4 linked regions of the Homo sapiens genome follow. The protein of the gene in region 1 interacts with the protein of each later gene in a pairwise test. Each region holds a gene or a part of one and is shown in the gene's direction. Other genes may lie near its edges.

Evidence for each region.
Region 2: the proteins of PLSCR1 (region 1) and LGALS9C interact in binary tests that used the Homo sapiens proteins (3 or more experiments, as listed by UniProt).
Region 3: the proteins of PLSCR1 (region 1) and ESR2 interact in binary tests that used the Homo sapiens proteins (3 or more experiments, as listed by UniProt).
Region 4: the proteins of PLSCR1 (region 1) and RGS3 interact in binary tests that used the Homo sapiens proteins (3 or more experiments, as listed by UniProt).

Annotation. Positions count from the first base shown.
Region 1 is NC_000003.12:146,534,601-146,541,628, reverse strand, and holds part of PLSCR1 (phospholipid scramblase 1), read left to right. Parts: intron 1-448; exon of another isoform or gene 449-472; coding exon of another isoform or gene 473-495; exon of another isoform or gene 496-2,877; intron 2,878-3,584; exon of another isoform or gene 3,585-3,633; intron 3,634-5,063; coding exon of another isoform or gene 5,064-5,076; coding exon 5,077-5,089; intron 5,090-7,028. UniProt on the Homo sapiens protein: Catalyzes calcium-induced ATP-independent rapid bidirectional and non-specific movement of phospholipids (lipid scrambling or lipid flip-flop) between the inner and outer leaflet of the plasma membrane resulting in collapse of the phospholipid asymmetry which leads to phosphatidylserine externalization on the cell surface.
Region 2 is NC_000017.11:18,472,052-18,479,799, forward strand, and holds the start of LGALS9C (galectin-9C), read left to right. Parts: upstream 1-4,737; 5' UTR 4,738-4,803; coding exon 4,804-4,842; intron 4,843-7,748. UniProt on the Homo sapiens protein: Binds galactosides.
Region 3 is NC_000014.9:64,277,352-64,284,379, reverse strand, and holds part of ESR2 (estrogen receptor beta), read left to right. Parts: intron 1-1,304; 5' UTR 1,305-1,394; coding exon 1,395-1,756; intron 1,757-4,226; coding exon 4,227-4,399; intron 4,400-7,028.
Region 4 is NC_000009.12:113,592,699-113,598,238, forward strand, and holds the end of RGS3 (regulator of G-protein signaling 3), read left to right. Parts: intron 1-1,430; exon of another isoform or gene 1,431-1,578; coding exon of another isoform or gene 1,579-1,640; intron 1,641-1,731; coding exon 1,732-1,833; intron 1,834-2,220; coding exon 2,221-2,282; intron 2,283-2,900; coding exon 2,901-3,067; intron 3,068-4,069; coding exon 4,070-4,255; 3' UTR 4,256-5,040; downstream 5,041-5,540. UniProt on the Homo sapiens protein: Down-regulates signaling from heterotrimeric G-proteins by increasing the GTPase activity of the alpha subunits, thereby driving them into their inactive GDP-bound form.

The DNA of each region.
Region 1 (7,028 bases):
CTTAAAAGAGTCTTTTAACAAATTTCACTGAAGGATGTCAGTCTTCCTTTTTTCAGTGAATTAGAGACATCGGTGCAAAGAATATGAATTATTAATCATCTTAATTCAGCTAGTTAGCAAGCTGTATCACATTTATTAAAATCACTTTTATTTCTATGGGTTTAGTTTCACCATTTATTAGGAGGAAAGGAAGCAAATTTGTGAGGGAGCTCTGGGTTGTCAGGAAAGGCTTTTCAGAGTAGTAAAGCAATCAAATGAGAATAACTGATTCAGTATTTGTTTCCTTTGTCTCTTTGGTTTACTTTTTAGTTTTGTAGAACACTTGATCACTACCATCTCACTTGGTCCTAGTTGATGTATCATCTACATTTTTATTCAAGGTTTAATATAAAATGCTATAAAAGGCTATCCTAAACTGGTTTTAAGCATATTTGTTTTGTTTGTTCAGCATAAAATACACAAGAGGATTTTTATGGAATGGCTCCTTGTTACAAGGTACTTTGCATTTATAATCAGCCACAGTCACCTCAGTTTCATCCCGTATCTTACAAGTATGATGTGCTGTATACTCAAAGCCTCACCACCTGCTTGCCCCACCCATTTGCTTAAATGTATCAATTTTTTCTAAGCTTAACTTTTACCAAAACTGGAGTTCAACAGATGAATATTTTTCCTTCTTAGATGTTAACTAAACATTTTTAAAGGTACAAAATTTATGTACAAACATAACCCAAATGACATGGAAGTTACTTGATTTGTGACTTACCTCTGTAATGTTCCCCTGGCCTACTTGAAATTCCTACCTTTCCTCTAGTCTAGTATCTTATTCTCAGTTATTCGGAGGAAGTTAGGGACCTAGAATTCTTGTTTTCAGAGCAGTAGAATTTTGCTAACATAATTCAAAACATTTATCCCTATCTTGGGGCTTGAAGAGAATGTGAAATGCTTTATCTTCTGTTTTGAGGGAATGAGGGAAGGAGCTTGTTCTTAGGCAATTAACAAGTAAATTTAAATAAATAATCCAAATCTGGTGTGGGTAAACAAATTTTAGTTTTAGGAACTTTCAAAATTAAGTATGCTTCCCCTTTGGGTTCCAGATTTTACAGTAATACTTTTTGAAAGCAGTAAGATAAAAATTTCAGGACCTCAAGAGATGGGTCAAAAGAGTTTCACTGTAATATGAATTTTGAAGCCAGAACTGGAAATCCCCTGTGCTGTGTCTTCCTCTTCGTGGTAGTAGAGGTTACAGTTATCAAATAGTCCAGAGAAGCAATGGGAACTTATGATTTCTGATAGAAAAATTTTAACAGAGATGTACTTGTATGCAAATAATATATGATGCCTCAGTTTCCTCCAAAGTCTTAGTTAACAGAGTTAGAAAAAATCAGATTATATTTGAAGTTCTGTGTTCATACTGGAGTAATTATTATTCCAATGGTACAATATACAACATAACTTTATTACATTTTTTGGTACAGCATAAAGATGATTTTCCCTTTCTCTGAGTATTTCTGAAATTTAAAATGAAATAAGTGTGGTAGAAGCCATTATTTATGAATTATCATGCTAAATTAATTAACTCATTAATTCATTCAGGGCACACCCAGTTATTCCCCAAACTGAGTGATGTATTTCTGGGAATAGACTTATTAAGCTTGAGAAAACCCAAAGGATCATTATAACAGCAAACAGGAATGTAGGCATCCACATAGTGGATGACTTTAGTGACCTGGCACACAGTGCCTTATCTACTTGGCACATGTACAGGTACAAGGAACACTTAACATTTTGCACCAGAGCTTATTACATACCACTTTCAATGCTTGAGATATTATATAAATGCTAAAATTCTAAAACCTATAGTAAAGCAAAGACCCAGATTTTATACTGCAGTAGTTTTGCCAGTAAGTCTCATCCTCACTAACTTATCTTTTAAGATTAAAAATAATGTAACCAAGTGGGAAGAAAAAGAGCAAATATGAACAAATTGTCATTGTTTTAGAATCTGCTTCTTTTCCTTTCCGGTATTTCTGTGCAAGGAGAGAATGATCTCTGACCTTGTGAAAGGCAAATACCATGTGTATTCATGGTTGTTATTCATTTGGCAACGACTTGAAACTCATGACACTCCCTGCTGAAGATCCTCCACCTATTCTTAACAGCTGGGCTCCCCAGCTCCTGGATCACCAACCAGTACCAGTCTGTGGCCTGTTAGGAACTGGGCTTGTACAGCAGGAGCTGAGCAGCTGGAGAGTGAGCAAAGTTTCATCTGTATTGACAGCTGCTCCCCATCGCTCACATACATTACCACCTGAGCTCAACCTCCTGTCAGATCAGCAGTGGCATTAGATTCTCATAGGAGCAAGAACCCTATTGTGAACTGCATGTGTGAGGGATCTAGGTTGCGCACTCCTTATGAGAATCTAATGCCTGATGATCGGTCACTGTCTCCCATCACCCCCACATGGGACTGTCTAGTTGCGGGAAAACAAGCTCAGGGCTCCCACTGATTCTACCTTATAATGAATTGTATAATCCTTTTGTTATATATTACAATGTAATAATAATAGAAATAAAGTGCACAATAAATGTAATGCGCTTGAATCATCCCAAAACCATCCCCTGCTTCACTGGTCCATGTCTTCCACAAAACCGGTCCCTGGTGCCAAAAAGGTTGGGGACCACTGTTTACCAGGATGCATAGCATGGGTTTATGAATTCCCTATCTTTGCAGCACATCCTTTATTTCTGGCTTGCATGGGACTTGAAAGCCTAAAACAACTAAATGCTAAGAAAAATTATTTTTAAAATGATGACAAAAATATTTTCTATTTCAGATGTATAGATCTGCAATCCAGAAACTATGAATTTTTTTCAGTTGAGTAGTCTGTTTGCCAAAAAATAAAAAAAAATAAAAAATAAAAACTTGCCTAAGTTTCTTCTCTTACATTTTATTTAGGATTTGCCCTTAGACATTATTTAGTGCTTTTCTGACCCTGTAGGGACGGTGAGAATAATTGAAACACTAGTTTCTTAAAATTTCTGTTAAAATTGGTTAAAGGCCATAGAATTTTTTTTTTAAGCTAAGCATGTTATAGAGAGGTATCCTATAAGAAGCAAGGGGCAGGTAAAGACTTTAGAGATGTATAGTCCAGTGTGTTAATTAAAGGATACTACCTACTTCTAATTCGGTATGTATTAATCTTTTCTGATATATCTGTTAAAGTACTCTTCGCATATTTTTAAAAAATTGGCATTTTAAAGTATAGTCTTTGATGGTAGAAATGTGAGATTGACAAAAATCATGTCCTCTTATGTATGAATTTAGTCTTACACAGTTCTTCATATGATGGAATCTAAAACAAATGTAGTCTTGAAAACTTTTAGTCTACTTTGGTTACATGTGTTTATTATTGCTCACCTTATAGATTAACAGCAGAAAAGTATAAATTTTAATATTTCTACCTTTCTGGCTTGAGGTCTACAGCATTAATTTCTGACCAGTTAATGCAAACTGAGATTCCTATTGTCCTAAGAAAATCTGGGAAGTTAGTAACACAAACACATCTTTTGATTTATTTCAGGACCACATAAACCCATTTTGAATTATTCAACCATTGCTGAACTTCTTGAGTATGTATAATTAAGAGTTGACTATAATTGGAATGTTCTTAAGACTTTAAGTTGATTATAAAATTTTGTGCTTAAAGTTGGCAATAATCAAAACAAAACAAACAAACAAAAAAAACCCTTTATTTTAAAACACAGTCTTGCTCTGTCACCCAGGCTGGAATGCAGTGATGACATCATACTTCATTAGACCGTCAATATTCCAGGCTCAAGCAATCCTCCCACCTCAACCTCCCGAGTAGTTGGGACTACAAGCGCATGCCACCATGCTTGGCTAATTTTTTTTTAGTAGAGACAGTGTCTGTCCATGTTGCCCAGGCTGATCTCAAACTTCTGGACTCAAGTGATCCTCCTGCCTCAGCTTCCCAAAATACTGGCATTATAGGCATAAGCCACCATCCCTGGCCAAAAAATAATTCTGAAACAGCAAGGAGGAAGGCGGTTTCTTCTTGGGAAGTCTTGATTTTAGTTGAGCATGTAGAGGGATCACTTGACTTATTAACCACTTAGGATTGCACAGTAAGATAATTTAAAGGGTAGCCAGCACTGGAGTGGGCCTGGGAAGGGGATGGGCAGTTTGTGTTAGTGTGTGTGGGTCCAAGATAAAAATGTTGGGTAGCAGAGTTTTGCCTAATGCATTGTCGCTAAAAGGGATGAAGGGCATCGGGATCTACAGGAGATGGAAAAAGTAGTGACAGGATAGTAGTGGGAAAAACTAGGATCGGATCAAGGCACTGGAAGGCAGAAATATTGAGTAGAATGTTTGCTGCAATTTATGTTTCTGTATAAATACCGAGTACAAAGTTTCACTTGGGTGGTCAAGGTGCTATGGCTGTGACAACTCCTGAGAGTGGGTTTTCTGGTTAAAAAAAAAAAAAAATCTCTGAATGCACGGAGTCGTCTCAGGCCTTCTCAAATTTGCAAAGAACAGGTCCACAAGACCTACATTTCCCAAGATAATTGCAGTAGTGTGACCTGATAATTAACATTTTTTGCTTTCCTGCTGGAACATTCCTGGGGCCCAGAGACTGGGCCAAGCATTTCCAGTCCAAAGACTGGGAACTGAACCAAGCATTTCCTTTAGATTGTTCAAGTTGTGAAGGTTGATGTTATTAGCTTGGTTACTACTTGGAGTCTTAGCTCATAGTGTGTCTTTATGGCTTTCTGCCTCACTGGACCCTCTTCCCAAAAGGCTTTAGAATGTGTTCACCATCATGAGCTGACCAACAATTTCTAAATTCCTACTCAGAAACACAGCAAGGGGAATGCAGTCAAGCACAAAGGGCTTAAATGACCAGATAAGGCTGGGCTGGATGAATAAAGAGGAATATCCTATGAATGTGACTGTGTAGTTTTAGAGTATCCCGATTCAACTGTTATATTTGACTTGTGGCCTTGTAGACAGTGTGTTAATGTCAGATCTTCTTTTTCAGAACTGTTTTAATCATGGACAAACAAAGTAAGTAATTTATTTTAAATGTTTACTTTCCTCCTTATAATGTTAATCTGTTGGTAACTTGTTATTTGTCATAATGTTTTATTCAGTGTCTGAAAGTGTATAATTTGTTTTCTGTTGTTTATGCTCCAGAATACAATGTCTAGTTCAGTATTTTGACTATAGAGAAGATGTACAAAAATAGCACTATCACTAGGTTCTTCATTAAAAATACGAAAGCCTTTTGGAAAGCTAAGAAATGCTAGATTTATTGGGAAATATGTTCTGTAACATATATTTAAACCACAACAATATTCTCTTTGTGTATTTTATATGTATAAAGATTATTCAAGTCATACTAATTAACAGATAATAAGATTTGAGTTCATTGTAATAAACTCCTCAGATACACACCTCAATGTATATTTCATCACAGACACATGTTTGTATTTTAAGTAAATACCAGTCATTATGTTCTGGCTTTTTTTCTCTCAAGAAAATTCTAAGTAAGATGGATATTTATCAAGCAAGTAATAAAAGACTGTCTTATTAAGATATCAAGGTTCTGAAGAACAGAGGGAAAATTATGTTCAAAATTCCCACTACATAGGGAAAATTAAATTCAAAAATTAAATCCTGTTTTTCTGAAACGCTTTTCTTTATTCTCTCTTTCATCTTTGTTGAGGTAACAAAAAAATATTTATCTGTCACTACAGTGTCACCCTTATTAGATATATGAAATAATCTCCAGGACTAGACTCCTTGCTTTTCCCATGTGAAGTTTTATGATTTTCTTTTTACTTACAAAACTCAAAGCTTTTTAAATGTAAATTTATATAGAATTATACTGGTTTATTTGCCACAGACTTTAAGTTGATTCCACTCAATTTACAAAAATGTATCTGGTGATGGTCATAGGCAACTTTTAACTCTTCAGTTTTGTATATATAATTGTATGTATGTATGAATGTATTTGCATAAATAGAAATAAAATGTGTATATGTGTGTGAATAAATGTGTAAATATGTATATATACATACATGTAGACATAAAAAAAAGTACCTTTAAGACAATGTGATAGACTTGTACTTCTTATAAGCCATTTTAAGTTGCATTTCAAAAACGCAGTAATCAAACCATAATTAACATGCTCTTTGTTCTGCTTGAACACCTGCCCATTCACTCATTCTCCTTGTATGAATTCCCCCTGGAATGCCTGAAATCAGAATCATTGCTTTGGTACCAAAAGCCCAGAGATTGTGAGCTCATGATTTCTTGAGTCTGTCTGTTCCTGTATATGTGTGTGTGTGTGTGTTCTATGTTATAGTATTCAAACAATGTTGCTTATTAAGAGGTATCACAATGTGACATACCTGTCAAGGGTAGATCTTTACTTCAGACTTGCAAAATATTTTCTTGAAATCTATTCTGAGTCTGATGCTGTGTTTCCAACTTAATTTGGGAGTAGGGGCTGCAGGCAGGGCCTTATTAGCTAGAGAACTAGGGAGTTAGGTCAGTCACTTGATGCTGAGAAATAGAAGAGAATGGATGGGAAAGAATGATGGGGAGTTTCAGAGATTTGTGATGATTCACAAATCACAAGGTATGTTGCAATGTTTGTCCAGGGAAAAGTCCTCATTTGTTTTTTGTTGTTGTTTTGTGTTATTTATTTATTTATTTATTTATTTGAGATGGAGTCTCGCTCTGTCGCCCAGGCTGGAGTGCAGTGGCACGATCTCGGCTCACTGCAACCTCCGCCTCCCGGGTTTAAGTGATTCTCCTGCCTCAGCCTCCTGAGTTGCTGGGACTACAGGCGCGTGCCACCATGCCTGGCTAATTTTTGTATTTTTAGTAGAGATGGGGTTTCATTTTGTTGGCCAGGCTAGTCTTGAACGAGTAGGAGAGCGGTTTTTTTGCCTGATTTTACACAATCACCATGGACTGGATTCCGCTGAAGTCATCA
Region 2 (7,748 bases), on another chromosome or scaffold:
GGGGATTATTATTTGTGCCTGCTTCATAAAACTGACATAAAGTTAATTGTAAGACACCTAGAATGATGTCCAGCACATAACCAACTATATTAACTTTAACAAAAAATCTTGGCCGGGCACGGTGGCTCACACCTGTAATCCCAGCATTTTGGGAGGCCGAGGTGGGTGGATCACCTGAGGTCAGAAGTTCGAGATCAACCTGGCCAATATGGTGAAAGCTTGTCTGTACTAAAAATACAAAAAAGTAGCCGGGTGTGGTGGTGGGTGCCTGTAATCCCAGCTACTCAGGAGGCTGAGGCAGGAGAATCCTTGAACCCTGGAGGGGGATCTTGCAGTGAGCTGAGATGGCGCCATTGCACTCCAGCCTGGGCGACAGAGACAGACTCTGTCTCAAAAAAAAAAAAAAAAAATCTGTGTGCACTTCCTCCTTGAAGCCATGTAGCCCAGCTGTATATCCATCTTACCCTTTGGAATATGAGATGCTTAAGGCTGGGACTATGTCCAATTCTCTCTGTACCCCAGTGCCCAGAGGAGTCCAGCACTTACTTATTGTCTGCGGCAGGCATTGAATTTTCCAAATATTCCTGGTCCCAGGTGCTCTTTCAACCTCTTGCTGCCTCCTGTCTAGAGGTGAGGTCACTTTCCCCTCCCCTTGAGCCTGGGTGGTGCTCATGTGATTGCCTCAACAAATAGAATGTGGTGGAAATGGCACTGGATGGCTTCTGAGGCTAGGTTATAAAAGGGATGTAAGTTCCACCTGGCTCTCGCTGGGAATGCTCACCCGTGGACTCCAGCCACCATATTGTGGGGAAGCCCAAGCCATGTGGAAAAGCCACTTGCAGGTGTTCCAGTCAATGGCCTCAGCTAAGATCTTAGCCAAGAGCCAATATTAAGTGGTAGACCTGTGGTATTAAGAACATTCATGCTGTTATACAATTATCACTACCATCCATCCGCAAAACTCTTTTCATCTTGTAAAACCAGAACTCTATGCCTATTAAATTATAAGTCTTCATTCCCCCTCCTACCAGCCCCTAACCACCATTCTACTTTCTTTTGTTGATTCTGGCCACTCTAGGTATCTCAGACAAGTAAAATCATACAGTGCTTTTTCTTTTTCTTTTTTTTTTTTTTTTGAGACAGAGTCTCATTTTGTTGCCCAGGCTGGAGTGCAGTGGTGTGACCTCAGCTCACTGCAACCTCTGCCTCCCAGGTTCAAGCGATTCTCCTGCTTCAGCCTCCCGAGTAGCTGGGACTACAGGCACTCATCACCGCGCCTGGCTACTTTTTGTAATTTTAATAGAGACGGGATTTCACCATGTTGGCCAGGCTGGTCTTGAACTCCTGACCTCAGGTGATTTTCCCACCTTGGCCTCCCAAAGTGCTGGGATTACAGGTGTGAGCCACCGCACCCGGCCTACAGTGCTTGTTCTTTTATGGCTGTTTTATTTCACTTAATGTTCTCAAGGACCATCCATGTTGTGGCATATGCCAGAATTTCCTTCCTTTTTAGGGCTGAATTGTATGTCTGGCCCACATTTTGCTGACCACTCATCCGTTGATGGACACGTGTTGCTTTCACCTCTTGGCTTTTGTGAATGATGCTGCTACAAACGTGGGTGTTCACATGTCTCTTTGAGTTCCTGCTTTTGGTTATTTGGGGGATATACCCAGAAGTGGAATTGCTGGATCATATAGTAATTCTATGATGAGGTTTTTGAGGAACAGCCACGCTGTTTTCACAGGGTTCCAGTTTACTCACATTCTGGCCAACAGTTGTTATTTTCTGGATTTTTTTTTTAATCATAGGCATCCTAATGAGTGTGAGGTGGCAGACTCCCTCAGTCTATAGGGCAGAGAAGAGAGAGCCTCTGAGAAGGGTCTGTGACTTTGAACACTAGAGCTCTGAGCACGAACATTCCCGAGGGCTGCTTCTAGTCTCCTGAAGACCAGAGCTAACCACTGGGAATGGATTGTGGTGACTGAAGGGTGCCGAAGTCAGAACTCTCAGTGGCCTGGCACTGTGCCTCGAAGTGCCTCCCTACTGTGTTGATTAGTCTAAAAACATGTCAGCCTTTGGGTATGACCTTACTGGGGCCCCTCCAGACAGGGCATGGAGCAGAGGGCCCTCCTTTATGGGCTGGACTCACTAGTGAAGCTGCTTAACTGTGACTCACCTCCAAGGCTCAAGGTGATGCTAAGGTGCTAAACTGCTGGAACTCTTAGCTGTGCCTGTGTCTCCTTGGGCTCTGGGAGATTTTTTCTTTTAGCAGTATTTTATGGCGATATTGTCTAGGTAGAATAAAATGTACAGATCCTGGTTTTCTGTTTGAGTTTTGTTTTGTTTTGTTTTGTTTTGAGACAGGGTCTTGCTCTGTCACTCAACCTGCAATGCAGTGGCACGATCATAGCTCACTGTGGCCTCAGCCTCCCAGGCTCAAGCAATACTCCTGCCTCAGCCTCCCTGTAGCTGGGACTACAGGCATGCACCACCATGCCTCACTAATTTTTTTGATTTTTAGTACACAGAAGGTCTTGCTATGCTGCCCAGGCTTGTCTCAAACTCCCGGACTCAAGCAATCCTCCTGCCTCAGTCTCCCAAAGTGCTGAATTACAGGTGTCAGCTGCTGCACCCAGCCTCAGCCTGTTGTTAATGGATGTAAACACCTGTGGGACCACCACCCAGAACCAGATCCAGAACATTTCCAGCCTCTCGAAGACTCCTTCGTGCCCCTCCCAGTCAGTGACTCCCAAGGGTAACGCCACTCTAGCCTGTTGTTCAACTTGACTCGAATGGAATTCTCACAGCATGTGTCTGTTTGGATCTGGCTTCTTCCGCTCAGTTGCAAGGCTCATTGACGTTTCCTGTGGCCTAGCTCCTTTTTATTGCTGAGGGCCACTCTGTAGTGTGAAAACCACAATTCATTTCTCCCTTCTTCTGTTGGTGACTATTTGCATTGTTACCAGCCTGGGGCTATGACGAGTAAAGCTTTTAAAAACAGACAAATATGTTTTCCTTTCTCTTGGGTAATTTTTCAGAAGTAGAAAAGCCAGCAACTTTGAAGTAGATATTTGACTATATTACAACTCACCAAGCAGTTTTTCTTTCTCTTTATTTTTTTTATTTTTTGAGACAGAGTCTTGCTCTGTTACCTAGGCTGGAGTGCAGTGGCGTGATGAGGGTTCACTGCAGCCTCGGCCTCCTGGGCTCAAGTGAGCCTCCCACCTCAGCCTCCCACATAGCTGGGACCACAGGTGTGCACCACCACACCTGGCTAATTTGCCTTTTAAATTATATGTAGAGACAGGGTCTTCCTATCTTGACCAGGCTGGTCTCAACTTCTTGGACTCAAGTGATCCTCCCACTTCAGCCTCCCAAAGGGCTGGGATTACAGGCATGAGCCACCACGCCCTGCCCATTTTTCTAAGTTGGATTATTTTACACTCAAGTCTGCTATGAATGATAGTTCCAGTTGTTCCATATCCCAATCAATTGGTGATTGCTACAAATGACGTGACGTGATGAAAATATTCCTGGTATTCGAGAGGATTGCAAAGAATTTCCCTTCTTTTCTCTCCTTTCTGCTCCCCTTGTACTGTCTACTCCTTAACTTGGTCAAATTCTACTTGATCCAGAACATAATGGGATGGTGAGTGCAGACGACACACACGGCCTCAGTCTATGGGAACATCTCAAAGGAGTTCGTCTGCAAATTCTAGTGCATCTAGGCAGAACACAGGAAGGAAGAGAGGTGCAGACTTACGTATGGCCCTGGGGCACCTGCCATCCCCTCGAGCCTGTATGGTCCTTACCCGCCCATCCCCAGCTTGAGTTCTGGGCCTTCTCGCCAGCACATCGTTGGGACCTGGTCAACTTCAGGTAAGTTTATTTCATGGCTCCCTCTCCCCTCTGCAGCCTATCCTGTTATTCTCTGTTTCAGCCAATTATTTCCCCTAACTAGGTGCTGAAGCCAATTAAAGGCAGTTCATGCCATATGTTCCTTCCCACTCCCATGTCACTTGAAATGTTCTATTATGTCCAATACTTCTCTCCCCATCCTAAAGCTCACAAAATAAGGATGGAGAAGAGAAGAAAGAGAGATTCACTGAGGGGGAGGATCAGAAGCTCCTGGGCACCCCATACTCTAGAATAAAAATCTTCATTATAGTGTTTTTCATGCAAAATATTCCCTTCTACATAATTATGTTTTAACATGAAGAATAGAAATTTAAAGAGGAGAAATACTTCTTGAAGATTCTGAGAATCTTCATATAGCTCAGGCTGCCACGAATTAGCTGTGTGACCTGGGGCATGTCCCTCAGACTCTGAGCCTCAGCTTCTCTATATGTAAAATGAGTTGAAGCCACCCTTCCCCACAAGCACCCTGTGCACAGGCAATACCCAGCCCCATTATTTTCTGGAACCAGTGGCCAAGCATGCTTAGGACACACAGCCACATACTTCTGGGCAGTGTCATCTGGCAACTCACTGTCATGTCAGTGTGGTCAAGCATTGTAGACCTCTATGAACCAAATATGCTTCAGGCTTGGGTTGAGCACAGGAGAGGGAGGAGGGAAAGGTCACTGGGGCTGGGAGTGCCTACTTCCCTCTATGAGTGTCACCCCAGTTCACCCAACACCCTACCTTTCTCTCTCTGGACCCACTTCCTCTTGCTGCCGGCTCCTCCCCATTGAATAACAGCCAAGTTGCTTTGGTTTCTATTACTTTGTTAAGTCATTCCTTCTGCAAAGGACTGCCTGGCAGGTGTCAAAGGCAGTGGTGGCCACAGAGGCGGTGGAGAGATGGCCTTCAGCGGTTGCCAGGCTCCCTATCTGAGCCCAGTGAGTTCCGGGGCCGTGGGCACAGGGCTGCCTCAGCCAGGGGGACACAGTTCTGGGGCTCTGAGGAAGCAACTCCTGGGTGGCAGGAGATAGGGGTGGGGGCATCCCAAAGAGAACACAAGCAGGGCAGAAATGTCAGTGGGGGTCGTCCTGGCACAGCTGTGCCATGCTGAGCTCACTCATGCCTGGAGAGATGCTCCTCCCATGAGTCATGGGTTTGACAGTGTTGGCTGAGCTGTCCTGTCCTGTCCTGTGCGCTCAGGGGAAGAGGTGTAGAGTGGGATGGTTTGTGTAAAGAGGAAGCAAGCATGCTTCTGGGACAGTAAGGATGCTACCCGGCATGGTAGTTAAGGGTGCGTACTGTGGAGTTGGCCTCCCTGGGTCCAGCTATTTACTGGCTGGTGGTCTCTGGGCCTCAGTTTCCATATCTGTGAAGTGGGAATAATACTTGAGCCCCCCACTCCCAGGGTTGGGATATGGATTAAGGAAGTAGTGTATCTAGAGTGTTTGAACAGTGCCTGACACACTGTAGGTGCTTTGGGAGTGTTTCATGTTATTGGGAGTCTGGGTGCAGCAGGGAAGGCCTCCCGAGGAGGTGTCTGTGCTCTGAAGGGTGAGGCGGAGTTAACCAGGCATAGGCATGTCAGGGCATCTGTAGACGGACAGTCTCAGAGGTGACGGAGGCAGGGACTGTCCCTGCAGTGTGGGGTCAGAGGGCTGCAGGTGCCTTGCTGAAACTCTGTGAGGTTTATGAGTCCCCTTCATTCACGGAAAATCCAAGGTTCAGGGAGGCAAAGGCCAGTTGCCAAATGCCCCCAGATGGGAGTGGCAGCCCCAGGAGCCCAGGAGCCTTCAGGGGTGACTGTGTCCTGGGCTGGGTCCTGTCACAGGATCTCACCCTGCCTTGGCAAAGAGCTTCCCGAGGGGCTGGAGTGGGTGGGCTGATGGGCCCTTCCTGAGTGGGGAGGCAGAATGGGGAGGGTGGGCAGAGGCAGGGTGCTGAGGGCAGGGAAGCTGCCAGGGGCCACCTCAGCAGAGGCCAGGGTTGGGCTTGGGTGCCCTCTGGTGATACTGAGTCCAGAATGAGGCTGCCTATGTTCTGGTCTGCAGAGCTCAGCTCTGCTTTCTAGACTCCAGAGAGGAAGAATGGAGAAAGGAGGCCTGTTTCCTCCTGGCTGTCACCAATGACCCCTCAGCCACCCTATGGAAGCCCCCAAGGTAGAACCTGCATAGAGGGAGTGGGGGAAGCTGGAATGGGCTGCCGGTGTTGGGCGAGCCTTAGGGTCAGCGTGTGCCACCTTGAGCATGTCACCCCATTTCTGGTTTTCTGTCAGAGAGGGGATCCCAGAGCTTCTTCCAGGTTCTGACATATTATTATTCTGGTAACTGGTTTTTACTTTCTAATCTTTGGATTCAGAAGGAAAATCCTCCTATGCACATCAGAGAGTTTGAGAGAGTTAAAGCGGGGCCTTGGAGCTCAGACAAGAAAGACGATCAGTGCAGCCCCCACAGGTGTCCAGAGCTCCCCTCTACCCTACGGGGGCTCCCCTGGGTTGGGACACTTGAGCCTCACTCGGTGACCCATCTGGCAGTCGGAGTCACGCTTTCTCCACATGCCGACAGTGGGGGAAGGTCACGCGGTTCATGTCCTGCTGAGGAGGGCTGAGTGCCATGAGGGCCTGGCTTGGAAACCTCACTCCCACTTCTTGTCTGGCCTCATCTAGCCCAGCCTCTTTGGAGGGCTGGGGGGAAGCTGGAACCACCTGCTGTGTGGCCCAGGAAGCACTGCGAGAGCCAGGAATAAGGACGTTCCGAGCTTCCTCATGAGAGGAAGCCTGTGTGGTGGTTAGAAGCGTGGGTGCTGGGGTTCAAATCCCAGCTCTGTTGCCGACCAGCTGTGTAGCTTTGGGCAAGTGACTGAACTTTTCTGTGCCTCAGTTTCCTCATCTGTAAAAGTGGCCGGGGTTGCTGTGAGGATAAATGTTCCCGGTCACCCCCAGAGCCCTCATGGACACACATGGATCCAAATGCCACAGCAGCCTTAGCTGGCCAACTTAAAACAACACATTTGTGCTTACAGTGTTGGAGGTCAGAAGGCTAAAATCAAAGTGTCATGAAAGGTGGCCAGCAGGACCGTGGAGCCTCTGAGGCAACAGGGCACTTTGGCTAAGGGCCACGTACTGGCTCCAGCTGGCAGGCAGTCTCGGCCAGCCAGGCTGAGCTCCCTACTCCTGGGGCCAGGCCTTGGTGTCCTCTGGTGATGCTGAGTCCAGAATGAGGCTGCCCACATTCTGGTCCGCAGGGCTCAGCTCTGCTTTGACTTCCAGGTAGGAAGAAGAGGGAAAGTCCCCGGTCTCTGGGCACAACCAGGAACAGAGAGTAAGTTCTGACTCAGCAGAGGGATTGATTTGTTCCATGCAAAGAGCTGCACTGTCAAGGCCGACATGGGCCAGAGGCTCAGCACATGGCATCGCACCCCGTCCTCTCAGAACGCTGCCAGCCAGGGGCTCAGCACATGGCATTCCACCCAGTCCTCTCCAGAATGCTGCCAGCCAGGGACTCAGCACACAGCATTGCTTCCAGTCCTCTCCAGAACACTGTCGGGTGGTGTTACTGCCCTGCCATTCAGAGGAGGGAAGTGGGGCACAGGCAGGTCAAGTGACTTGGCCAGTGTCAGAATTGCTAGTGTACAGAGCTGGGAGGCGAGCCCAGGCCCATGGGACCACAAATCCAACACAAAAATCCATCCTCCTGCACCCTACGGAGCAAAAGTAGGTCCAGTTGTTTTCCTGGGTTTCCTGGACACACGGATCTAAATTCCACAGCAGCCTTGGCTGGCCAATCTTAAAACAACAAATTTGCTTTCTTAATGATTCTGGAGGGCAGATGTTAAAATCATCGTGTGA
Region 3 (7,028 bases), on another chromosome or scaffold:
ACTCCAGCCTAGGCAACAAGAGTGAAACTCCATCTCAAAAAAAAAGATTTGCCTGTAATCAGCCAGCACCCCCAGCCTTGTGCTCACTTTACATACAAAAATTCTGTTTTTTAGAGCATAAATTGAAGGGCACATTCAAAACTGATACGTAGGCCAGGCATGGTGACTTATGCCTGTAATCCCAGCACTTTGGGAGACCGAGGCAGGTGGATCACTCGAGATCAGGAGTTTGAGACCAGCCTGGCCAACGTGGTGAAACCCCATCCCTACTAAAAAATACAACAAATTAGCCAGTCACAGTGGTGCGCACCCATAGTCTCAGCTACTCGTGAGGCTGAGGCAGGAGAATCACTAGAACCTGGGAGGCAGGAGGTTGCAGTGAGCCGAGATCATGCCACTGCACTCCAGCCTGGGTGACAGAGTGAGACCTTGTCTCAAAAACAAAGACAAAACCAAAACAAAACAAAACTGAGAAGCAACAGATTGATAAGTGACACAGTTACACTGGTCAGTCTCTTCAGCTAATACCCATTGTTTTTTATTATTGGAGATTCATAATGTGTTTTCTTTCTTTTAAAAACTTTTTTCGGAAATGGTAATTTCTCTCTTTTTTTTTTTTTTTTTTTTTTTTTGAGACAGGGTCTCACTCTATCACCCAGGCTGGAGCGCGGTGGCACAATCTCTGCTCACTACAACCTCTGCCTCCTGGGCTTGAGCAATCACACCTCAGCCTCTTGAGTAGCTGGGACAACAGGCACATGCCACCATTCCTGGCTAATTTTTAGTAGAGACGGGGTTTCACCATGTTGCCCAGGCTGGTCTCGAACTCCTGACCTCAAGTAATCTGCCCACCTCAGCCTCCCAAAGTATTGGGATTACAGGCGTGAGCCACTACGCTTGGCCTCATAGCGTATTTTAATATTGGTTGAGACTAGCCTTGCTCATTGATCTTCTCTTAGCGTTTACTTGGTTATTCTTGCTTATTTTTCCATAAGAACTTTCATTTTTATTTAATCCTGTGTTTTTTGGTTTTAAAGACTATTTTATAATAAATTTTCGTGATTAAACTCTTGTGCTTAAACTCTTGATTAAACAAACAAGCAATGAAGAGATGAATGAAGCAGAAAATGTGAGTTTCATGCCTCACATTCCCACTCCTCTGAGGTTAATATTTTCATGTATATTTTTCAGGATGTATTTGTAATCTCATACAAACGTATGTATTTTTTTAATGAAAATATTTAAATTTTCATAGTTAACAGCTGTAGCTCTAACTTGGCAATATCTTCTGTGTTTCTTTACAGCCATTATACTTGCCCACGAATCTTTGAGAACATTATAATGACCTTTGTGCCTCTTCTTGCAAGGTGTTTTCTCAGCTGTTATCTCAAGACATGGATATAAAAAACTCACCATCTAGCCTTAATTCTCCTTCCTCCTACAACTGCAGTCAATCCATCTTACCCCTGGAGCACGGCTCCATATACATACCTTCCTCCTATGTAGACAGCCACCATGAATATCCAGCCATGACATTCTATAGCCCTGCTGTGATGAATTACAGCATTCCCAGCAATGTCACTAACTTGGAAGGTGGGCCTGGTCGGCAGACCACAAGCCCAAATGTGTTGTGGCCAACACCTGGGCACCTTTCTCCTTTAGTGGTCCATCGCCAGTTATCACATCTGTATGCGGAACCTCAAAAGAGTCCCTGGTGTGAAGCAAGATCGCTAGAACACACCTTACCTGTAAACAGGTAAGTCCAGTCTTCATTCTGAATTATAGTTGCTAGCCATTTCTCAAATCACTTTATGGTTGAGTGAGAAGGAAATAATATGTTAGACAAGGTCTTTATTGTATTAATTACATAGTTTACTTACAGCACCCAAAACACAGGATGCCCTGTTCTATTCTGATATTTTAGTTCTCATTAAAAACTGGTATGTGTACATCAGTGTTGTGGGGAGAATTTGCTATCATGACTATTGTCTTTATACAGTAAATACTGAACTTAAGTCACTCCTTTTCTTTTTTTGAGACAGGGTCTCGCTCTGTCACTCAGACTGGAGTATAATGGCACGATTGCGGCTCACTGCAACCTTCACCTCCTGGGTTCAAGCAATTCTCGTGCCTTAGTCTCCCGAGTAGCTGGGATTACAGGCGCGTGCCACCACGCCCAGCTCATTTTTTAAATTTTTAGTAGAGACAGGGTTTCACCATGTTGGCTAGGCTGGTCTTGAACTCCTGACCTCAAATGATCCACCTGCCTTGGCCTCCCAAAGTGCTGGGATTACAGACGTGATGAACACTGTGCCTGGTCTGAACTTAAGTCACTCTTAATGGAGTTATTTGGATTTGAAAAATGAATTTTTACTTTACTTTCAGTTTCAAAGTCTTCTTATAGTGAAACCACAATTTAATGTTCATGACAAATTGTTTCCAGGATAAAAGTAACTGTGATAGTATTACAACTTAAATGAAATTCTAGACATGCGAAGCATGAAAAGATAGATGATTGGTATAAGCTTTTTAACCATGAACTAAAATAATAACATTATATAAAGATTGGTGGAAACTATTGAAGTTTAGGCTTCAGTTGACATTCCCTGAAGTTAAAAAGGATATGTGTACTCTTTAAATGCAAGGTAACATAATGGATTATTTCCATCTAATTATTAATATTTCTAATGATAATCATAGGTATGAAGGGAATGGATAGTATAATGAGAAAGGAGAGGGGGAGATAAAAATCTAAAAGTACTAAGGGCATGTTGGATATTGAAATTCACTACTTTCAAATATTATCATAAAACTTTGAGACAGTAACATTGCACCATTATTTTTCTTCTTTTAAAAACATTTTACTCATTGGTAAAGAGAATATAAACATTGTGGATAACTTTTTTAAAGTAATGGTTTGTTTTTTTTTTCTCCTTCCTCCTTTAAAGGAAGACATATTTTGTTTCTGAGCATGAATTATAATCAAAGTTCTGCTAATTTTTGGGCAAATTAATCCATTATATAATTACCTTCATTTATAAATCAATAATACCTTTACCATTCCCTTTCCAAAAGAACCATGCCTGGCAACATCAGGAACTAGCCAGATGTGTTTTGGAGGCTGCCTGGGGATCCCTTGTTAGACTTTTCGTTCCTTTATGAACCTCTTGCCTGTGGTCCAGCATTGAGCCTCTGCTTCCTTCCAAGCCTTTCCAGGCCAGGCACTTGCTTGTTCTCTCTCTTCTCTTCTCTCTTCTTTTTTCTCTCTCCCTTTCTCTTCTCTTCCCCCTTTTTCTTGTCTCACATTCATCTCAAGGTAACTTAAAGTCCATTTGTTATTCCTCTTAAAGTTATTTTTATTTTATTTTTTTGAGATGGAGTCTCACTCTGTTGCCCAGGCTGGAGTGCAGTGGCACAGTCTTGGCTCACTGCAACCTCTGCCTCCCGGGTTCAAGCAATCTCCTGCTTCATCCTCCAAAGTAGCTGGGATTACAGGTGTGCACCACCATGTCTGGCTAATTTTTGTATTTTTAGTAGAGATAGGGTTTCACCTTGTTGGCCAAGCTGGTCTCGAACTTCTGGCCTCAGGTGATACGCCCACCTTGGCTCCCCAATGTGCTAGGATTACAGGCATGAACCATTGCGCCCAACCTGAAAGTTATTTTAAATCTAGACCTTTATCTGAAATTGCAGAGTGTGAGATGTTTGTTCTCCATTTAAATGGGAACTTCAAATGTCTGAAGGGCTGCTTAGCAATGCTGTTGGGAATGACTGATGTTTGGAAGTGGTTGAATGCCTTCACACCCATCCATGCAGCATTCGTGAACTCTAGTAACTACAGAAGACCAATGCATATCCTGCCTGTGGTTCAGACCTGTGGGTAAGATTTGATCTGGCCACTCCTTTCATTACACTTAGAGATGTAGCTCCCACCCCATGGCTATGACTGGTCTTCGGCAGTGACAAATGCTCATCAGCATCACGTGGATGGGCATAAACTCACCTACCCACTTTCAAACATTAGTCATTCCCCACAGCGTGGCTCTTTGTAGATATGATATCAGTATCAAAAGCTTTGCTGTATCAGATTTCCGGGAATATATTTACCAGGAACCCTGGAGGAAAAAGAGATTAAATTAGGCAATGTTCATGCTATTTTTTTTTCCTAGAAAGCCCTTCCTTTCCCTTTTATGCTCTGTTCAATGGATATTTTCTTTGCTCCCTAGAGAGACACTGAAAAGGAAGGTTAGTGGGAACCGTTGCGCCAGCCCTGTTACTGGTCCAGGTTCAAAGAGGGATGCTCACTTCTGCGCTGTCTGCAGCGATTACGCATCGGGATATCACTATGGAGTCTGGTCGTGTGAAGGATGTAAGGCCTTTTTTAAAAGAAGCATTCAAGGTACAAGAGAATTGTTAACTGCTTCTTTAGTTTCCTACTTTTGATTTCAAACAATTTTGCAGAGATGACTTGGCAGAAATGTCACTACTGGCCTGTTTGGCACACAAAGTATTTGATGAGCAGTTCAGAGGATCATGTGTGTTTGGAAGTGGGTTGGGTGGTGGGGTGGAATTGCAGATTTCTACCCCAGAACCCCAAGATTATACAGCCAACTCGAATGGGTCTTACCCCTCGTTCACCCACATGGGTGTTGGATAGAAGACATCGAGTTACAACCTTGTGAAGATGTCTCTTGGAAAAAATGTGCTCACAAGGAGTTGCAAAGATTGTTTCTTTCTTTTACTTAAATTTAATATATAGCATGCTTAACAGTCATGATGGTGGGCTGGCTCCTGAGGAAGAAAGAATAAACACATTTTTTGGAAATGGTCAGAAATCAGGAATTCAGCTACAGTGGACTTTGAGAATTGATCTAGACACATTTCTTCCCCTAGGCTAGGAGGGTCTCAGTTCACAATCCCCTTGTTTTCTGGGCTGTGTTTAGATTATTTCCCTAACTTTCTCTAAACGCCTTCTGGATTTTTTTTTTTAAATCAACTTGTTGATGAAAAGAATCAAACTCTGTAAAATATTTGAAGAGATTTATTCTGAGCCAAATATGAGTGACAAATGGCCTGTGACATAGCCCTCAGGAGATCTGAGAACATGTGCCCAAGGTGGTCAGGCCACAACTTGGTCTTATACATTTTAGGGAGACATAAGGCATTAATCAATGCATGTAAGATGTACATTGATTCAGCCTGAAAAGGCAGGACACCTGAAAGCAGGGGCTTCCAAGTCACAGGCAGTTCAAAGATTTTCTGATTGGCAATTGATTGAAAGAATTATTATCAGTAGGAAGCAATGATTGGGTTACAATAAGGGATTGTGGAGACCAAGGTTTTATCATGCAGATGAAGCCTCCAGGTAGCAGGCTTCAGAGAGAATAGATTGTAAATATTTCTTAGGGGTCTTAAAGGGTCTGTTCTATCAGTGATTCCAAAAGGGGAGGGAGGGTATAATGAACCATGTCTGTCTCCCTTGTTCCATCATGGCCTAAACTTATTTTTCAGGTTAACTTTGTAATGCCCTTGGCCAAGAGGAGGGACCCATTCAGATGGTTGAGGGGCCTTAGAATTTTATTTTTTGGTTTATAAACTTCAAGTTGTGCACCCCTGATTTCAAGGCTGGTCAGCTCATCTCCCTGCATGTGTCTTTGCTACACTCCTTCTCTCGTACCAGCCCTGATTTGCTGAAGTCACTTTCTTGCTTACTCTTGTTTTCTCTATTTGCCCCATAACCTGTCCCTCAACTGCTCCCTCCCAGGCAACACCCTATGTTTCCATCTGAAAGCTCCCTTCCTTTTTCTATCAAAGCCCCAATGCTTTGTTCTTTGCCAGTTAAGAAAAGCAACGTTGAGAGAATTCATAGTGTGTAAATGGCAAATAGCAATTTACTAAATTAACTCACCCATTGATAACTCTAAGAGGATGTTTTACCTTAAGCAGAGAAATACTGATAGAATCCAGGATATGGTGAGGAGTGAAATGTTGGTAGTCACCTTCCTACCTGTCCCCTGAAATTCACCCTGTATGAATGGCAGCCTCTTTGTCCTGGATTTTATAATTACTAGCTCTGCGACTTCACCTCCTAGCCTGTTTCCTCCTCTGTGAAATGGAGATACTCATAGGGATTTTCTAAAGATGAAATAAGGTTGATTATATGAAAACATATTCAGTGCTCAAATATTTTATTTGTGACAATCTTAACAGTAGATTATAAGGCCAAGTCCATTTCCTGGCTATATGATAAGAACAATATTGATTTTCTGAAATTCTGAACTGAATTCTTGATACGATGACTATTTTGTATCTTGCTGAGTTTCTAGGATTTTACCCCTTAAGAACGTTTGGACCTATTACTACTAACCATATCTTTTAAAAAGAGATCCTTCTTTTTTTTTTTTGCTTTTGGGGAAACATTGGTCTGCTTGAAACATCTTTGACCCCTGAGACTACAGCTAATAACAATTGAAAGTAAATTTCCTTTGCTTCTCTATGTTGTTTCTTCCTTCCTGCTGCATCAGACAGGAATGTCAAATTCTAAATGTGCAAAGAGGAAAGAGTTAAAGCTGTTACAGTTGTACAGTTGTAGTGCCTAAATGATCCTTTCTTTGCATGCTTCCTGTCTTTGATATAAGTGCATTACAGTAACTGAAAGTGGCCACTTATTTTTAAAATTGTCTCAAATAGGCCAGGATGGTACAGTATTGAGAAATTCCTTGCATGTAACTTTTTTTTTTTTTTTTTTTTTTTTGGAGATGGAGTCTCATTCTGTCACCCAGGCTGGAGTGCAGTGGCACAATCTCGGCTCACTGCAAGCTCTGCCTCCCAGATTCACACCATTCTCCTGCCTCAGACTCCCAAGTAGCTGGGATTACAGGAGCTGGCCACCACACCCTGCTAATTTTTTGTATTTTTAGTAGAGACAGGGTTTCGGCATGTTAGCCAGGATGGTCTCGATCTCCTGACCTTGTGATCCGCCCGCCTCGGCCTCCCAAAGTGCTGGGATTACAGGTGTGAGCCACCGC
Region 4 (5,540 bases), on another chromosome or scaffold:
GCTGTTCTCAAACTCCTGGCCTCAAGTGATCTTCCCGCCTCGGCCTCCCAAAGTGCTGGGATTACAGACATGAGCCACCATGCCTGGCCTCTGAAGGTCATACTCTTAAAAGCTTAGACGAAGAGTCTTAGAACATCTACGGTAATAATAAGAATAACCATTAATGTTTATTATGCCCCGCACTGTTCTGTGTGTATTTCATATGTAATCTAATTTAATCTTTACCACTACTTTTATTTTCCGTTCTGTTCTTTCTTATTGACCTTACCCTTATTTTACACGTGAATAAACTACTGTGCAAAGAGGCTAAGTTACATGGCAAGAAAGTGGTGGGGTTGGGACCTGGAGACCTGGCCTGCTGGCTTCTGTTTGAGGAAACAGCTTGACAGAGAAAAAACCTTGATAGGAAACTTGAGAGATCAGGAAACGTGTCAAAGGGCACACAGCTGGTAACTGCTGGAGCTGGGATTTGAACCCAAGACTAGCTCCAGAGCCTGGGATCAGCCTCCCCTGCAGGACTCTCCTTCATTAGACAGGGTGTCTAGGTCTTAGTGCCATTTTAAGCTTGAATAGCATCAGAAGTATAAATGCTTCAAACTTACCAAACCCCCTTGAAAGTTTAATTATTAAATTTCTTTTGCACGTCTTTAGTTATGTGATTTTTGAATAATCAATTTTTCATTTTCATTTTTGGTTTGAGTCAGCATTTTCCATCTTTGGGAGGATGGAGACCAAAACTTAAAGTGAAACATTTATTATTCGAAAATCACAAAACCATGCACACAACATTAAATAATTAAACTTTAAAATGGTGTTTTTGTAAGTTTATAGGACTTGTACTTCTGAAGTTATTCAGGCTTAAAACTACTAAGATGTTGGGGTCCTGCTGTATATTCATGACTGGATGTCGCCAATGCAGGTGACTGAGGCTGAGAGGCCGGCTGGCAGGAGCCATTCTCTGGGAGGTGCCCTGTACAGGGGGTCTAGGGAAAAGAGGGGCGAACATGAGCAAGAGGCATTTAACTCCTTTCTTGCCAGCAGTTTCACCCAGTGCTGAATTCTGCTGCCTCCTTGGGGACCGGCAAGGCTAAAAATGGTTCTTGGCTAAAAATAGCCAGTCCTGCCACCCCGGTGGTGGGCAGTGCCTCCCCTGGCTCCCTCCTTCCCTTTCAGCAATTTGCTGACTTGTCCCCCACCCCCCACCACTGTCTCCCTGCTGCCATGGTAACGAGGAGGCCAGTCACAAATAGCTGGGACTGGCTTCCTGCCGGGGCGGCCCCAGAGGCTGTCCCTTGCAGACACATGCCCCTTTCACGGCTCCCTCTCAGGGTTGGCCAGAAGGAATTTTTTTTTCCGCTCCCCCTCCTGGTCCCTCCCATTTCCTGGCTCCTCCTGTCTGAGTCCCAGCCCCGGCTTGTGCCTGGGAGTCCAGTCATCAGGCCAGGATTCCAGAGAGCGTGTGTGGCTGCAGCCTGCACCGTTGCTGCCCGCTGCCCAGGACGCGGGGTGGGGGACAGGAGCCAGAGTGGTGCCTCCTACAGACCAATCTGCGGCCCCAAGGTGGGGGGCCCTACAGAGATGCTCCGAGGCATGTACCTCACTCGCAACGGGAACCTGCAGAGGCGACACACGATGAAGGAGTAGGTGCCCTCGACCCAGCTCTCCCGACTCTGGATTTGCAGGGGCGAGTGGGCCAGGCTGAGCAACCCTCTTTTCTGCTTCTGTCCCCAGAGCCAAGGACATGAAGAACAAGCTGGGGATCTTCAGACGGCGGAATGAGTCCCCTGGAGCCCCTCCCGCGGGCAAGGCAGACAAAATGATGAAGTCATTCAAGTAGGTCCTCCCTGGCACCCTGGGACCCTTTGGGGAACTCACTGGCTCCCCGGGGAGTAGGACTGAGTGGTAGGGTTGAGGGGAAGGGGCTTGCCGGCTTGATCCAGCTCTGGGGGAGACAGGCTTTCACAGAGGGAGCTGGGTACCTGGCAAGCAGCTACCCTCACAGGGAGCAGCTGCCCTAGGGGGAAGGCTAGGTGGGGTGGAGATGGGGGCTGGAAGGGACCCTGGCCCCGGGAAAGAGGGTGGGCCTCCTTCCTGGGCGCCCCAGCTGGGCTCAGCTGCAGACTGGGCCCAGGGCAGTAAACAAAGGCCGCCTGGCCCAGCTTCCCCCAAGGTTCCCAAGCCTCTCAGTGCCCTCACTGTGTTTCCTCCCTCACCCCTCAGGCCCACCTCAGAGGAAGCCCTCAAGTGGGGCGAGTCCTTGGAGAAGCTGCTGGTTCACAAATGTAAGTTGGGCCTGCCTGCCCACTCCCTGTGCCCTCTCTCCCTCTCCCCTTCGCCCCCATCCAGACCCTGTGTAGCTGGTGCTAGAGAGGCCGCCTTCCCTCTCCTCGGCCGTCAGGGTGTCCTTGCTGTTGCGGAGGGGCTGAGCCCAAGCTGAGGCCCTTGGTCTGGCCTTGGAGCCAGCTTCTGCCAGCCCCTCCCCGTCCATGTGAGCTGGCACTGCCTGCCGGAGGCCCGTGGGACCTGTGTGCTCAGATCCATATTCCCAGAATAAGAATAAACATTTCTACGTACTGAGGGCTTTCACGGCGCCAAATGTGCCTGCCATCTCATGGGCAGGGTCCCATCGGCTCCTCCCAGGGCTCCGGGAGACAGAATCGATAGTCCCCATTTCACAGATGAAGACACTGAGGCATAGAGAGGGGGAGACCCCACTGAGACCCTGAAAGAGGCAGTGGCAGGGCTGGGGCCACATCCCAGGGCTCCTGGCTGTCGGGGACGGGCATTGTACTCAGCTCCCAGCACGCCCATCTTTAAAGTCCTGTAGGGGTAAGCTGAGGCATCTTAAGGGCAGGAGAGGCTGAGTTTGCCTCTTACCCCAGGATCCGTTCTCCTCACAGACGGGTTAGCAGTGTTCCAAGCCTTCCTTCGCACTGAGTTCAGTGAGGAGAATCTGGAGTTCTGGTTGGCTTGTGAGGACTTCAAGAAGGTCAAGTCACAGTCCAAGATGGCATCCAAGGCCAAGAAGATCTTTGCTGAATACATCGCGATCCAGGCATGCAAGGAGGTAGGACCTCAGGGCAGACCCTCCGCTCCTCCAATCCCCAGGGCCCAGTGGCCCTTCAGCTGCAAGGTGGCAGCCAGCAGCACAGGAAGGGGAGAGGCCAGAATGACTCCATGAGCCCAGGTACCCAGCAGGGAAGATGCAAGCTAGGATCAGGGGAAGAACAGAATCCCAGTTAGTAATAAAAATGGCCACCACCAAGGCACTGCCGCATGCCAGGCATGTGCTGAGCCCTTTATGTATGCGTTCTCATGTTTAATCCACACAACAACCTGTGAAACGAAGAGACAGGCTGGGCACAGTGGCTCATGCCTGTAATCCCAGCACTTTGGGAAGCCGAGCCAGGCGGATCACTTGAGGTCAGGAGTTCGAGACCAGCCTGGCCAACAGGGCGAAACCCCATCTCTACTAAAATTACAAAATTAGCCAGGTGTGGTGATGGGCGCCTGTGGTCCCAGCTACTCGGGAGGCTGAGGCAGGATAATCGCTTGAACCCGGGAGGCGGAGGTTGCAGTGAGCCGAGATCGCACCACTGCACTCCAGCCTGAGTGACAGAGACAAATCATAATTGCTCCCATCTATTGAGTGCCTACTGTGTGCCAGGCACTATGCGCAAAGCACATTATATGGATGATCTTGCTTGGTTTTCACGCTTTGAGGAATGTACTATTATTCCTAGCTGGTAGATAAGACAACTGAAGCTCACCGCACTTAAGTAATTTGCTTCAAGTCACACACCCAGGTGTGGCACTGCTAGGATTTGAACCCAGGAAGCCTAACCCTCAGGGTGGTATTTTCAGCCTTATAAATGCTGCCAGCCCTACAGGAAATGACTGAGCCAGGACTTGAATCCTCTGGTCTGAGGGTCTCTACTTCAGATGAACCTTAAGATGTGGGGCAAAGGGGCTTGGAGGTGAGAGGCTGGATGGGTCCCTTCCAGGCACATGGGCCCTAGGGTCAGTCCCCAGCAGGCAGCCCTGACCATGTCCCCCTCTGCCTCCCCAGGTCAACCTGGACTCCTACACGCGGGAGCACACCAAGGACAACCTGCAGAGCGTCACGCGGGGCTGCTTCGACCTGGCACAGAAGCGCATCTTCGGGCTCATGGAAAAGGACTCGTACCCTCGCTTTCTCCGTTCTGACCTCTACCTGGACCTTATTAACCAGAAGAAGATGAGTCCCCCGCTTTAGGGGCCACTGGAGTCGAGCTCAGCGTTCACACCAGGCGGGCTGGGTCCCCTGCCCACCTGCCTCCCTGCCCCCTGTGACGGAGGGGGCAAGCAAGCCCCCAGAGGCTGTGTCTCTGGACAGACGGATAGACATACGGAAGCGAGGCCTGGACCAAGAGAGGCCCAGGCTACTGGAGGAGTAGAAGGATGGGCCCCGTGGGGTCCCCACTGCCCCGGTACGAGGGGGCCCAAGACCCTGGCAGGTCAGGGGCCCTGGCCAAGCCAGATCTGGAGCTGCTGCTCCCTGCTGCGGAGACCGCGGAGGCTTCGCGTTGACCAAGTTCCTTAAAGAACTGGCTGATGGGGCAGGAGGTCCAGGCCTGGGCTCTCGGGCCCTCCTAGAGGGCCATTGGAGCTTGCAGCTCAGACCCCCACTTTGAGTTTTATTTATTTAAATAGTAGTTGGATGCTTGGCACGTCGTCCTGTAATAGGAAACCCTTGCCTCATCAGTTTTCCTGATTTACAAGTGCAATATTTTAGCCAATGCCTTGGGAGAAGCTGCCATGCAAAGGTGGACACCATTCTCCAGCTTCAGGGGATATGCTCGTCCCGGGCACCGGTGGCAGGCAGCTGGCCTTCTGGACTAAGGCAGCCTGGGGGGACACTGCAGTCTGGCTACACACAGAGATCTGGCACCCCCTGGGTGGAGTGTCCCTCGGGGGCTTTGGGAAAGCATGGCACCCTCAGACCACACAGTAGCCAAGTTCTGGAGCAAATAAAAGGCCTGTGTTATTTCTTGTTCTTGACCCTTTTTGTGTGTTCCTGGTCTTGAGCCTTCCCAGGGTGGCTGGGGCTGGGAGGGTTGGTCGTTGGGCTGTTGATTCAGCCACTGCTCTCTTGCCATCACCTGCCCCCATCCTGGAGCCCGATACACTGATACACTGGTGAGGGCTGCTCTCCCATGCCTTCCTCTGTGCCAGGCACTGTGCCACTCATCCTAGTGGTCACTGCATCTCCTCCCCAAGCCTGGGAGGTAGGGCTTATCCCCATTTTACAGATGAGGAGATGGAAGCACAGACAGGGAAGGTCACGTAGCCAGCAGGTGGCAGGGGTTCAGCCCAAGTCTGACTGTCTGCAAAGCCTGGGCTCTGCCGGCTACAGGATGGAGTCCTTGCTTATCGCCAGCTGGCCACATGTCTTTCAGCAAGTTCCTTCAATTCTCTGCCTCGCCACACCCTGAGGTTTGAATAGAACTTTCACGTGGTGCAGGGATGGCTGGTGAAGGTAGACGGGGCCAGAATCTCAG